Linked DNA regions of Homo sapiens: region 2 is linked to region 1. A link means that fine-mapping ties the variant in region 1 to the expression of a gene that starts in the linked region. Tissue or cell type: whole blood. Region 1 holds a variant in brackets; the other region holds the start of a gene. All regions are shown on one strand. Distances are between the middles of the regions.

Evidence for each region. PIP is the estimated chance that this variant, and not a neighbour inherited with it, causes the effect.
Region 2: C17orf67 starts here. The variant in region 1 is fine-mapped to the expression of C17orf67 in whole blood (TOPMed, PIP above 0.99).

Annotation. Positions count from the first base shown.
Region 1 is chr17:56,859,930-56,865,309 of GRCh38, reverse strand. It overlaps DGKE (diacylglycerol kinase epsilon), which reads right to left. Exons shown (of 12, transcript NM_003647.3): 10 at 3,392-3,519; 11 at 3,059-3,170; 12 at 1-2,698. The coding sequence ends at 2,519. The region is part of intron 1 of LOC124904037 (a long non-coding RNA gene); the gene reads left to right. Among named protein-coding and RNA genes, the nearest start is that of DGKE, 28 kb to the right of the region's middle. The variant T/C (reference allele first, on the strand shown) is at 2,290.
Region 2 is chr17:56,830,560-56,835,939 of GRCh38, reverse strand. C17orf67 (chromosome 17 open reading frame 67) reads left to right here and starts at 2,020. Exons shown (of 8, transcript NM_001085430.4): 1 at 2,020-2,322; 2 at 2,598-3,042. It overlaps DGKE (diacylglycerol kinase epsilon), which reads right to left and starts at 1,789. Exons shown (of 12, transcript NM_003647.3): 1 at 1,680-1,789; 2 at 681-1,162. The coding sequence starts at 1,144. RefSeq lists enhancers at 336-933, 665-1,064, 1,533-2,130 and silencers at 1,455-2,524, 2,498-2,792.

The sequences.
Region 1 (5,380 bases):
CTGAGAATGTAGAAGTTATTTTTTTAAATATCAAGACAATTTAAAATGGAACAGGAAAATCTTATGGCAATTTTTTTTGGTAAAGTGTAGAATCCCTGGTAATATAAACAATCACTACCCTAATATGTAACTTGCAAACATGAAGTCTTATAAATTGTACTTAAACAAGGCACATGCCTATACACTTATTTGAAATGCTGGGTAAATGTGCCCAAAAAGTAAGTGAATTTTGCAAAAACAAGATAATGATACATTTTATGAGATGGTATTCTGAAATAGCTTCCCTAAATGAAGTCTAAATAAGTGAATAAGCCAGCAGAAAAACTTCATGACAGACCAGTAGTGATGCAAAAACCTTACTAGATTACAATAACCAAAAAATCAACTTATTTAGATAAATGAGGGCATTTTACATAAGCCTGTTCTAAATACAGTGTAATATTATGGTTGGTATTAAAATTATAATTTTTAATTGTAGTTTTCACAATTAAAAAGCTGTATTAGTTATTGTGATTATTTTCGTTCCAACATCCTAAATTGATTTGCTTCTACTACAATTAGCACTACGAATTATATAACAGGTAAACTATAACCTACAGCAAAGTGGATTTAACAGTGTATTTATAAAATGTGATGTCTTTAACAATTTTGATCATGAATGAAAGGATAAACTTCATAATACTCAGAACATGATTGGCCCATTAAAAAAAAAAAAAACAAAACTCTGCCATCCTCACTGCCATGGTTACTTACCATGAAAGGTATATAAAGAAGCTGAAAACAGATCTGCTCACAAAGTTTCTCAAGACTAGAATTTAAGATCACCTGAGGAGATCTGCAAGAGGTTAATTTAGCAAAATAGAGTATTTCATAAAATGTACTGACTACTGTATACATTACTAAGTTGCTCTTTGAAAACATGGTCTGGGCCTGAGGTGAGGCAAACTTAGGTTTATGGCAATTCATGGATGACAGATTCATAATAGACCCTCAAAGATAGCTAATGGTATTTTGGGGGATACATTCTGATCTTTCAGAGATTAATGTCATGAAAGACCACAAAGCCTGGGCCATGTGTCAGAAAAACACCAGGCTGGATGCCCTCTGGGTCAGCCGACCTGTGGGTCACGACCCTTGGGCTGGTCAACAGCAGCGAACAAGCACCCTCTAATGGGAACCATGAAACTAGCCCTTCAGTAAGTTTGTGGCAATTGAGGGGCAAATAAAACAATGAAACAAAGCTTTCAGTTATCCAAAAGTAGTTCCCTAGTGCTTTTCATGCCCTCCTTCATTTTTCAATACAATGAGGAATATTTGTGAAGAATAAGAATATCTAGATTTCTGTCAGGAGAATTAAATTAGAATTTTAATTAATAGACTAAATTTCTATCTGATTGTGACTAGCAGAATTTATGTGATCAATTTAACTTATTAAATAAAGCTACAGAACGTAAACACTAAACACAGGTACCATACCACAAGGTAAATAATAAATAATTTAAAAATATATCTCTCTCATTTTAAAATAAATATGATATAAACATTTTAGCAAAGATTTCTGTCCACTTACCTCCCTAAGGGGAAATTCTGTTAAAAGACTACTGTATTTCAAAATACTACAAGACCACCAAATTTTTAAAACTTATCAGTCAGCCTTGAGCTTTTTCTAAGCAATTAATCTCACCGTTGTCTCCTTTAAGCACGTTTTTTGAAGTGTTGACACTGTCTTTTAATAAAAAGAGCGGCTGATAAACAGTTCAGCTCAGAACCTATAACTTACAATCCCAAGTGCTCTGAATCTTATTTCTTACCAATTCACTTATCTGTTTCTCTTTTGGCTACACTGGTGTTATAAAAAAGATCCTGAATTGCAGCTCAAATGGTTACCTACAGAATTAAACAACATTTACGTGTCTGAATAAGTTCCTAAAATAAAAATTGTAATACAAATTTTAAGTATGATCTTTTTTTACTATTCTCCTTTTGGGGGTTCCTAGAAATCAATACATACACTTGGTTTGGGTTGTAGAAAATCTTAAGGGGCATGCTGCAGGAGGATGCTCACAATTAACCATGCTGGTTTGACAGTAATCATTTCCTTTCAAAAAAGCAGGTTAATTTGATCTTTCCACCCACACCTTGTTGGAGATATAATGTGTCCATCCATTGTGTGTCCATCATATGCATGGTTCAAAAATAAGACATGAGACAGCACATACTTCAGAGTGAGTCCCACTCTCAAAACAGTCATAACAAATTTTCACTCTCATGTAAGTTTTTGTGACTTTT[T/C]GTAAGTTAATACTATTCATTTGAAGTATTTTGCTGAAAAAAGAACAAACATTTGTAAATAACTGAAGGCTGGCTGGTTTGGGGATGCTATTTACAAAAATGTATACCCATTATACTACTAGTGAAATTAAGACTGAATAGCTGATAGAGAATTTCTATTAATACTTTTGGATGAACATGTATCTACTTGCGTGAGGATTCTATGCAAAGTTTTCACTCCCTCATCCATCTATTCAGTCGCCTTTATATCTTCTTGATCCGAAGTACTAGAGATGTCATCATCTGTTTGTTCTCCAGAGAAATATAACATCATTGCATGTGTCTTGTGAGTTATGGTGACAGTGCAGGGCCCTTGGGCCCAAGGCTCCCCATCCACCTGCATTGGCATCATGGAGCACTTCAAAATCAGCTGATATTAGGGAACAAATAATGTTTAAAAGTCAGTCCCCCCAAATTTAGAAAGGTCTTCCTTAATAATACCATCCACAATCCCTTAACCCTTATGCATTTCATTTTTAGAAAATATTAATCTGAATATGTTTTTATTCATTGATTAAGGAATTCTTTTTTCAAGTGAACGTTTTATCTCATGGATCTTGAGCCATGTTTCTGTTTCTTCCTCATCCCACTCTAGCCGCTAGTGTACAGTGACCAGCTGCATGAGCCATAAACCACTGTTTAAAGAAAAGTATAGCATGTATATTTTACATATCAACAGCTTAGAATTGGATTGGGACAAATTAGCCTGTTACAGCTATATTTCACCTACCCTCACTGTATGTGCCTGTCCTATTCGAAAAGGATTAGCCAGTTTTACTTGAATCTGAGCACAGTGGAAAGACCCATATACTCCAACGACTTCCAGCAGACCATCGTCATGCCTAAAATTGGAAAAAGAAAATATGGATTATATGATGCAATAAAAAATCAGTTATGCTAGAGCAATTACTTTTTAACACAGTTGGACCATCAACTTAAAAAATATTTATAACTAATGAGATACACAAAAAAGAAAATTTGAGGAAAAATGTTAAAGTCTATAAACAAGAGATTGCTTTAAATAAAATAGTGACATAAAAAAACAGACCACAAATGTACATACCTGGCTAGAGGGTAAGTCTCGTCCCCCATCCCTTCCCATAGTCTGCAGCCACCGCCCCAGTATCCGATGTTCAGAACTATAATACCTTCCAAGCTGGGCAGTGCTACTCGCTCACCATCCAGTTCTAGCTTTAAAGAAATACAAATAGATAGTGACTACAGGATACACAATTTCCACACACATCCATTTAGAATTCACATCTATTTTCATAAATGTGCTTATATATGAGAGATGCACATGTAGAAGATGCTCCCTACCTCTCACTCAGGGCCTCTCATCTGCCCTTTTCTATCTCTTCAGTAGAACTGCTTCTATCAACATCAACAATAATGTTCTTTTTGTTGAGCCTCGTGATTTTTTCAGGACTTACCTAACTTGCTGTTTCAGTAGCACCTGACACTTGCTGACCCCCTTCCTCTTTTCCTAAAATCTTCTTTCCCTTTGCTTCCTGGGAACCACAGACTCTACTTCCCTGGATGTTCCTTCTCAGGAAAGTAAACTGGGCCAGATCCATCTATCCACTGCCCATAAAACATGTCCATGGACTGGCACCAAAAACTCTTATGTAAAAAATTGATCAAGCAACTTTTCTGCAATTTGCTCCCTGTTCCCCAATGTACTTACCAGGAAAGAGTAACATCTTCCCCTCCTCCTTCTCTTAGCTAACTCTTACTTACTCTTTCCTGGTTAAGTAGGTTAACTCACCCCCAACCCAGGTGTTTAAGCCAGAAACCTGGCAGTTATCTTTGATTTCTTTGACTTTTTACCCTCCACATCCCCTTAATCACTAAAAACTGTTGATGCTATTTCTATGTCTTTCTCTCTCTTCACCATTTCTTCCCTAAAATGTTTCTATCTGGCCTATCTGCCTCTAGCTTTACTTTCTTATGCATCCCTCACAGAGCGGTTGGATCGACACTTAAAAAATGCAAATATGTCATCCTCTAATTACCACCCTTCAGTGGCTTCACTTTAACCCTTCAATGCCCATGATGAAATACAAGATCCAATACCAGGCAAATATGACACTCTGTGATTTGACTTCTGTCCATCTCTCTAGCCTCAGCGCTTGTCTTTCCTTCCTGAAAGCTATGCTCCAGCCTGAACTCACTCAAATATGCCATGTATGCCTCTGGGTCTTTTGCAGATGCTGTTTTTAGCCTACAGCAATCTTCCCCTCCTCCTTCTCTTAGCTAACTCTTACTTATTTTCAGATTCCAGCTTGTCACTTCTTCCAGAAAGACTTGCTTATACTGCCACTTTCCCTAGTCTCTGTAGCTCCTAGGTTACGTATTGCAGTTATTTATTCCTGTAAGACCACATGCTTTTCTTATATAACTTCTCATACTGCATTGCAATGTGATTTAAATATCTTTTTGGTTTCTTCTTGGAGACAGGGTCTCAATCTGTCACCCAGACTGGTGTGCAGTGGTACAATCATGGCTTACTGTAGCCTCTGCCTGCTGGGTTCAAGTGATCTGCCTCCCTCAGCCTCCTGAGCAGCTAGGACCACAGGTACATGCCACTATGCTCAGCTATTTTTATTTTTTATAAAAGTGGAGTCTCACTATGTTGCCCAGGCTAGTCTCCTTGCCTCAAGCAATCCTCCCACCTTGGCCTCCCAAAGTGCTGGGATTACAGGCATGAGCCACTGTGCCCAGACTGGCTTAAATATCTTTCTTCACCCTAGACTGTAAATGTAGAGCAAGGGATTTATCACTGTCTACCTCCAGTATCGAGGACAATGACTATTTTGTAGGTATATAAATAAAATTTATTTTATTTCTGTATAATTAAAAATAATTTGTATTTTTATATAAATAAAATGTCAGACAATAAAATAAAAGTCTTTATTTTATATGCTTGTATGCTTTACTCTACCATCAAAGCCTAGGAAAAATAAAATATGATAAAGTAACATAACACTCTTTTTAACAGAAAATCTTGCTTACTTCTACGCCATGGCAGCCCAGAGACTTTGAGCTAAAC
Region 2 (5,380 bases), 29 kb after region 1:
TCAGCAAAGGACATCTTCACCTATTTTCAAACAATATTTAAGGACAAAAATGTGTTGTCCAGTGTGTATATAAAAGACATTAAAATATTCTTGGCTTAATCAAGGTCACTTATCTAAGATTCTACATGTCCTGAAAGACCAAGCGTCAAAAGGAATATTCCTTTCAGTGTTCTTTTTGAGTATATTTCGCTATGGTACCAACAGCTATATTAGCAAAAGACATAAAAGTGCTGCCTTGGAATGACACTTGTTTTCACTGCACATTCATAGTACAAAACCTGTGACCCATCAGTTTTGCGGCTGAAGGGAAAAGTTAATTTGTCCATATTTCATTTTTCCTTATTTAAAATAAGGAGATAATCGATAGGAACAAAAGCTAAAATATACAGTGGCCATGAAGCAGGCACCACTTAGAAACCTCTGTATTAACGTTAGGAGCCAAGTTTTATTACCCAAAAGGGCAGGCTGGCTGAGGAGTGGAGGCTGGATGCATCGTCTCAGCAAATGACTACTGCAAAGCTGCCACGCTTGCACAAACTCAGGGATGTTTATTTATTAGCTTGTTTCCTCAAAATGAGTTTAGGTCATCAGCAGAGATTAAAGCAGGCCTCTACACCACTCTATGAAATCCTGATTCCCACGGCGCATTCTGGGACAGTGAGTGTCCACGAAGACCATACCTGTAATCGCAAAGCTTGGGTTGACAGCCACACTGCTGCTTGCAAACCATACAGTAACTGCACAGGGGCACGTTGCCCCGGATCCAGTGGTGGGGCATGGCGTCCAGGACCTTGGTGTCATTCTTGAGCATAATCTCCTTGCACTGGAAGCGCTTGTCGGCCTTCCTGAGGCAGCCCTCGTCCACGCGGAGCCCGCAGCAGTCGCAGAAGGCGCCCTGCAGAATGTGCTGCGCGCACACGCAGCAGTAGGTGGGCTGGCTGAACAGGTCCGTGTCGCGCCACCCGTGCTTGCTCTTGCGGAAGATGTCCCTGCGGTGCAGCTGCCGGCGCGACCGCTGGAGGCTACACCAGAAGGTGATGAACACCGGCAGCAGGACCGAGCACAGCGTCCACAAGATCAGGTGCCCGTCCGCAAACAGGCCCTCGGAGGGCGAGCCCGGCGCCGGCCGCCTCTCCGCTTCCATCTTCTCCAAGGACGATACCTAACCAGAAAAGAAACAGGCGGTGCACCCCGAGCTCGCCATCCCTTCCCCGCCCCCTTCCTGCCTTTCCGGGGCCAAACCGGGCGCCCTCAGTGAAGGTGGCTCCGCTCTCCCGAGGGCGGGACTGCGCCTCGTCCCCCCGTCTCCCGGGACCTGCCGCGCCGAGAAGGCGACGTCCAGCCATCACGCTCCAATCCCCACTCCCCAACCCGCCCCACCTCGGGAGCGCGTCCAGGAGCCCAAGGCGGCTGCTGCTGCCGCCGCCGCCTCACCTTGCCGCCGGTCTGACCCACGGAAGGGCGCAACATACAGGGGCAAGCTGCCCTCCACCGAAAGGCCGGGCGTTCAGGCCAGGCAACGCCGGTCGGCGCCCGTAACCGTCGGCCCAGGCCTCGCACTCCCCTCCGGGGCGCCGTCTCCTCCCGGGCCCCACCCGCTCCCACGCGCGGCCCGGCGACCCTAGCCCCTCTCGGGAGGCCTCCGGAGACCTGCGCCGCGCCGGTCCTCGAAGCCCTACCTCGCGCGGGTGGAGGCGCGGCTCCGGGCCAGCAGGCCTTGGCCGCCTCGCGCAGGAGGAGAACGACGCTGGGCCGCCAGCAGGGATGAAGCCGGGCGGGGGAAACGCTTAAGGCTCCAGCCGCACGCACGCCGATCCGGCGCGCGGGGCCGCGAGCTGGAGGCGGGGCCTGTGGCGGCGAGCCCCGTGGCTGGGCGGAGCCAGGGCTGACGGGCGGGGCGGAGGTGTGAGGTGGGAGGGGAGACGGACCGGCCTGAGGGGGCGGGGCCGTGGAGGAGGCTGGAGACGGATGGAAGAGGCAGGGCACTGCGGCTGGGGGCGGGGCCTAGGGGAAGGGGGCGGAGTAACAGTGGGGCGTTTGAGAGGATGGAGGGTTGAATGCCAAAACTTCGTAATCGTAGAAAATTCTGGAAAGCCGCCGGCGGGGCAAGGCCACGAGGATCCTCCTCGCAGCACCGCGCCGCGCGGGGCCCAGGGGCCGCGCTCACGCCCGCCGCTCGGCGCAGACACGAGTGCCCCCGACTTGAGCCGAACCTCTAGCCGATGCCGGCGCCGCCGCCGCCGGGGATGCGTAAGCCGACTGGGAAGCGAGGGGGGGAGGCGGCCTGCGCGGCACCGCCCGACCTGGCCGCGGCGGGCTGAGGTAGGTGTGGCGGCCGCAGTAACGCAAACCTGAGGGCTCCTCCGCTGCGGAGCGGCGGGCGGGCGCGGAGGCCGAGGGCGAGCGGGGCAGCCGCCCGCTCGTCGCCGCTGACCCCGAGCCCGGCCGCGGTTTCCGCCCCCTGCCGTGGCGGGCGGGCCTCCCCTGCGCTACCCCCTCGCCCGCGCCCGCCAGCGCCCGAGGCCGGGGAGAAAGGGGAGCAGCGGGAGCCGGGGACTACCGGAGATGGGAGCACGCCTCCTGCTGCTGTCGTCCAGCCCCAGGTTCCGGAGGAATGCTCGCTCCCCGCTGGAGTCCTACCAGCCCAACACGGACCTGAGCCGCGACCACGCGGGCTGCAGCCTGCAGCACATCAGCTACCCGGAGAACGCGGACGCGGAAGCACCGCTGCTCAGCACCCCCGAAGAAACACGGAATCCAGAGAGGCACAGGCACCGCCCCGGCGCGCACAGCTGCACTCAGCGGCTTCCTTCCTACTACATACATACATAGGAGTGGGAGCCGAGGACCACTTGTTGCTTGCGGACTTCCTCTAGCATAAAAGATGGAAAGAAAACACACACCGAAGCAAGGGACCAAAGGAACAGAAAAGAAACGCAGAGATCATAGGAAAACTGCAAAGAAATACTTGATAATATCTTCCAAACGATTAGAGAAGACATAACATTCATTAAGAATACACATATAGATGTATATATACGTGTATGTGTGTATGTATATATTATTATGTGTGCATATATATGCATGTGTATGTGCGTATATTTGTATTAACTGTAGAAGATAAAGCTAGACACTAGTAAAAGTGGTAAAGCAGATTTTAATAATATACTATTGTAATAGGGAAGAAGGTACCTCGTGAACGGAACTGAACTTTGTGCAGAAGTGACTAGGTGTTTAAGAGGGAGGAGGAGGGAATGTGAAGGGGATGAGCAGGAACTCAGTAGTCAGGAAAGTGAAACTTGTGAAGGGTGGGTCAGTGTAAGTAAGGTTAGGCGACAGTGCCTGTTAGATGGCTGTTATGGGAGTCAGGGTCCTATCCTCCCACAGTAACTGGGAGATAGGCCCTTTGCTTCCTGGTGATTGCATGTTGGAGGAATGGCTTTCAGGTTCTTGAGAAGGATACTCCTGATGTGTAGGAGACATTACATCCCAGAGAGACAGAGGAAGGATTCACAATTGTTTAGTTTTTTGTTGTTGTTGTTAACTCTTTAAGAAAGGGACATCAGGGGCTGCTTGTAAGGTGTTGGCAATAGCCAACAGTGAGTTCTTTTGGCAGCTTTCCCAGGAAGATACTTTAGGGGGTCTGGGGTCATCCTATGGATGCAGCTTTGAGCAGTTAAAAACTATGTGTTTAGGCCGGGCGCTGTGGCTCACGCCTGTAACCCCAACACTTTGGGAGGCCGAGGCAGGTGCATCACGGGGTCAGGAATTCAAGATCAGCCTGGTCAAGATGGTGAAACCCCGTCTCTACTAAAAATACAAAAAATTAGCTGGGCATCGTGGTGAGTGCCTGTAGTCCCAGCTACTTGGGAGGCTTGAGGCAGAGAATTGCTTAACCCAGGAGGCGGAGGTTGCAGTGAGCTGAGATCGCACCAATGTATTCCAGCCGGGGCGACAGAGCGAAACTCCGTCTCAAAAAAAAAGAAAGAAAAAGAAACTGTGTGTTTAAGCGTTTTGATATAGGGGGAAGGATGGACCCGATCCTTTTTGCTGAAGTCTGCAGATTTCATAGGCCAAGGTGGAGGCCTAGTTGAAAAGGGGGCTCAGGGAAGCCTGGCTAGAGCTTGGTCAAGGAGGGGATCTTCATCAGTCGTACGTATGTACATGGCACGTGGACCTGCATAGACACGTGTTTGGTGGAGGCTGTCTTATACGGATTCTGCACAACTCAAGTCCCCTAATGGGAACAGACTTGGGGAGGTCACTCTTGAGGCTTTTTGTGGTATTGTGGCTACTGGGAGACCTGAGGAGGGTTCTGGTCACTAGCAGACTCATTTCATTCACCCCTTGGAATCTGCCCAGGACTTGGACTTCTGTGTAATAGTAACTTCACGCCCCAATGATCCTCCACGTTCCTTGCTGATGCTGTGATTGCTCCTCCAAGTTCTCCACCTATGTCCATCTGAGCACTTGGTATTTCTACTCTAGTGTCAAAAGGTCCTGTTCCCAAGTCTCCTCCCAAACATTTATTCCAATTTATCATCCAGATGCCCGTCCTTTGCCATCCCTCTCTGTTCCAGCAAAGGACACCACCCCTCAGGGAGATGCTCACAGTGGACTCCTTGTCCTCATCCTGACTCCCCTTTTCTCTGGCACCCGCAGGCCTCAGTGAGTCTCTCGGTCTCTGGCAGCAGCACAGGTCCTGGACTCGAGCCCATCTCTCCATCCCCCCCTCCACTACTCCCCTGGTCCAGCTGTCACCATTCTCACCCTTGAATGACTGTCACAGCCTCCCACCTGGTCTTCCTGCTTTACTATGTTCCCTGCAGGCTGCCTCTGAACTTTTATATTGAAATGAAACTCTTACTGTGGGGAAAACCCCTCCATTCTCAGACCCCTGGTACCCTTCACTCATTTACCACTCTGGCCATCGTTCACTGAGTTCAGGCCACTCTGGCCTCTGCATGGTCCTCACGCCCACCAGACTCATGCCCCCTTCAGGGCTATTGTCAGTTCTACCCCCTTTTCCTACAAAGTTCTTCCCTATGTCTTCGTTGCCCAGGTGCTCCCTCCCGACAGAGGCCTTGCTGACCACCCCTACCAAGATTGCCCCACATTTATGTAAATCCAGTCTGTTTAACTATTAGGGTGAGTGACCTCCATTCATACTTGATAAATAATTTACAGTTATCTAAATACAGTGCCTGACTCAACATAAAGACACAGAGGAAGTTTAAATGGAAAGTTTAATTCAGGTTACTTTTGTCAGGTATCTCTCTTACATACCAAAATAAAAATGTATAAATACAAAAAAAAAATTAGCCAGGCGTGGTGGCTAATTGAGAGGAGATGGGGAAAAGTGATGTGGGGTTCCCCAATG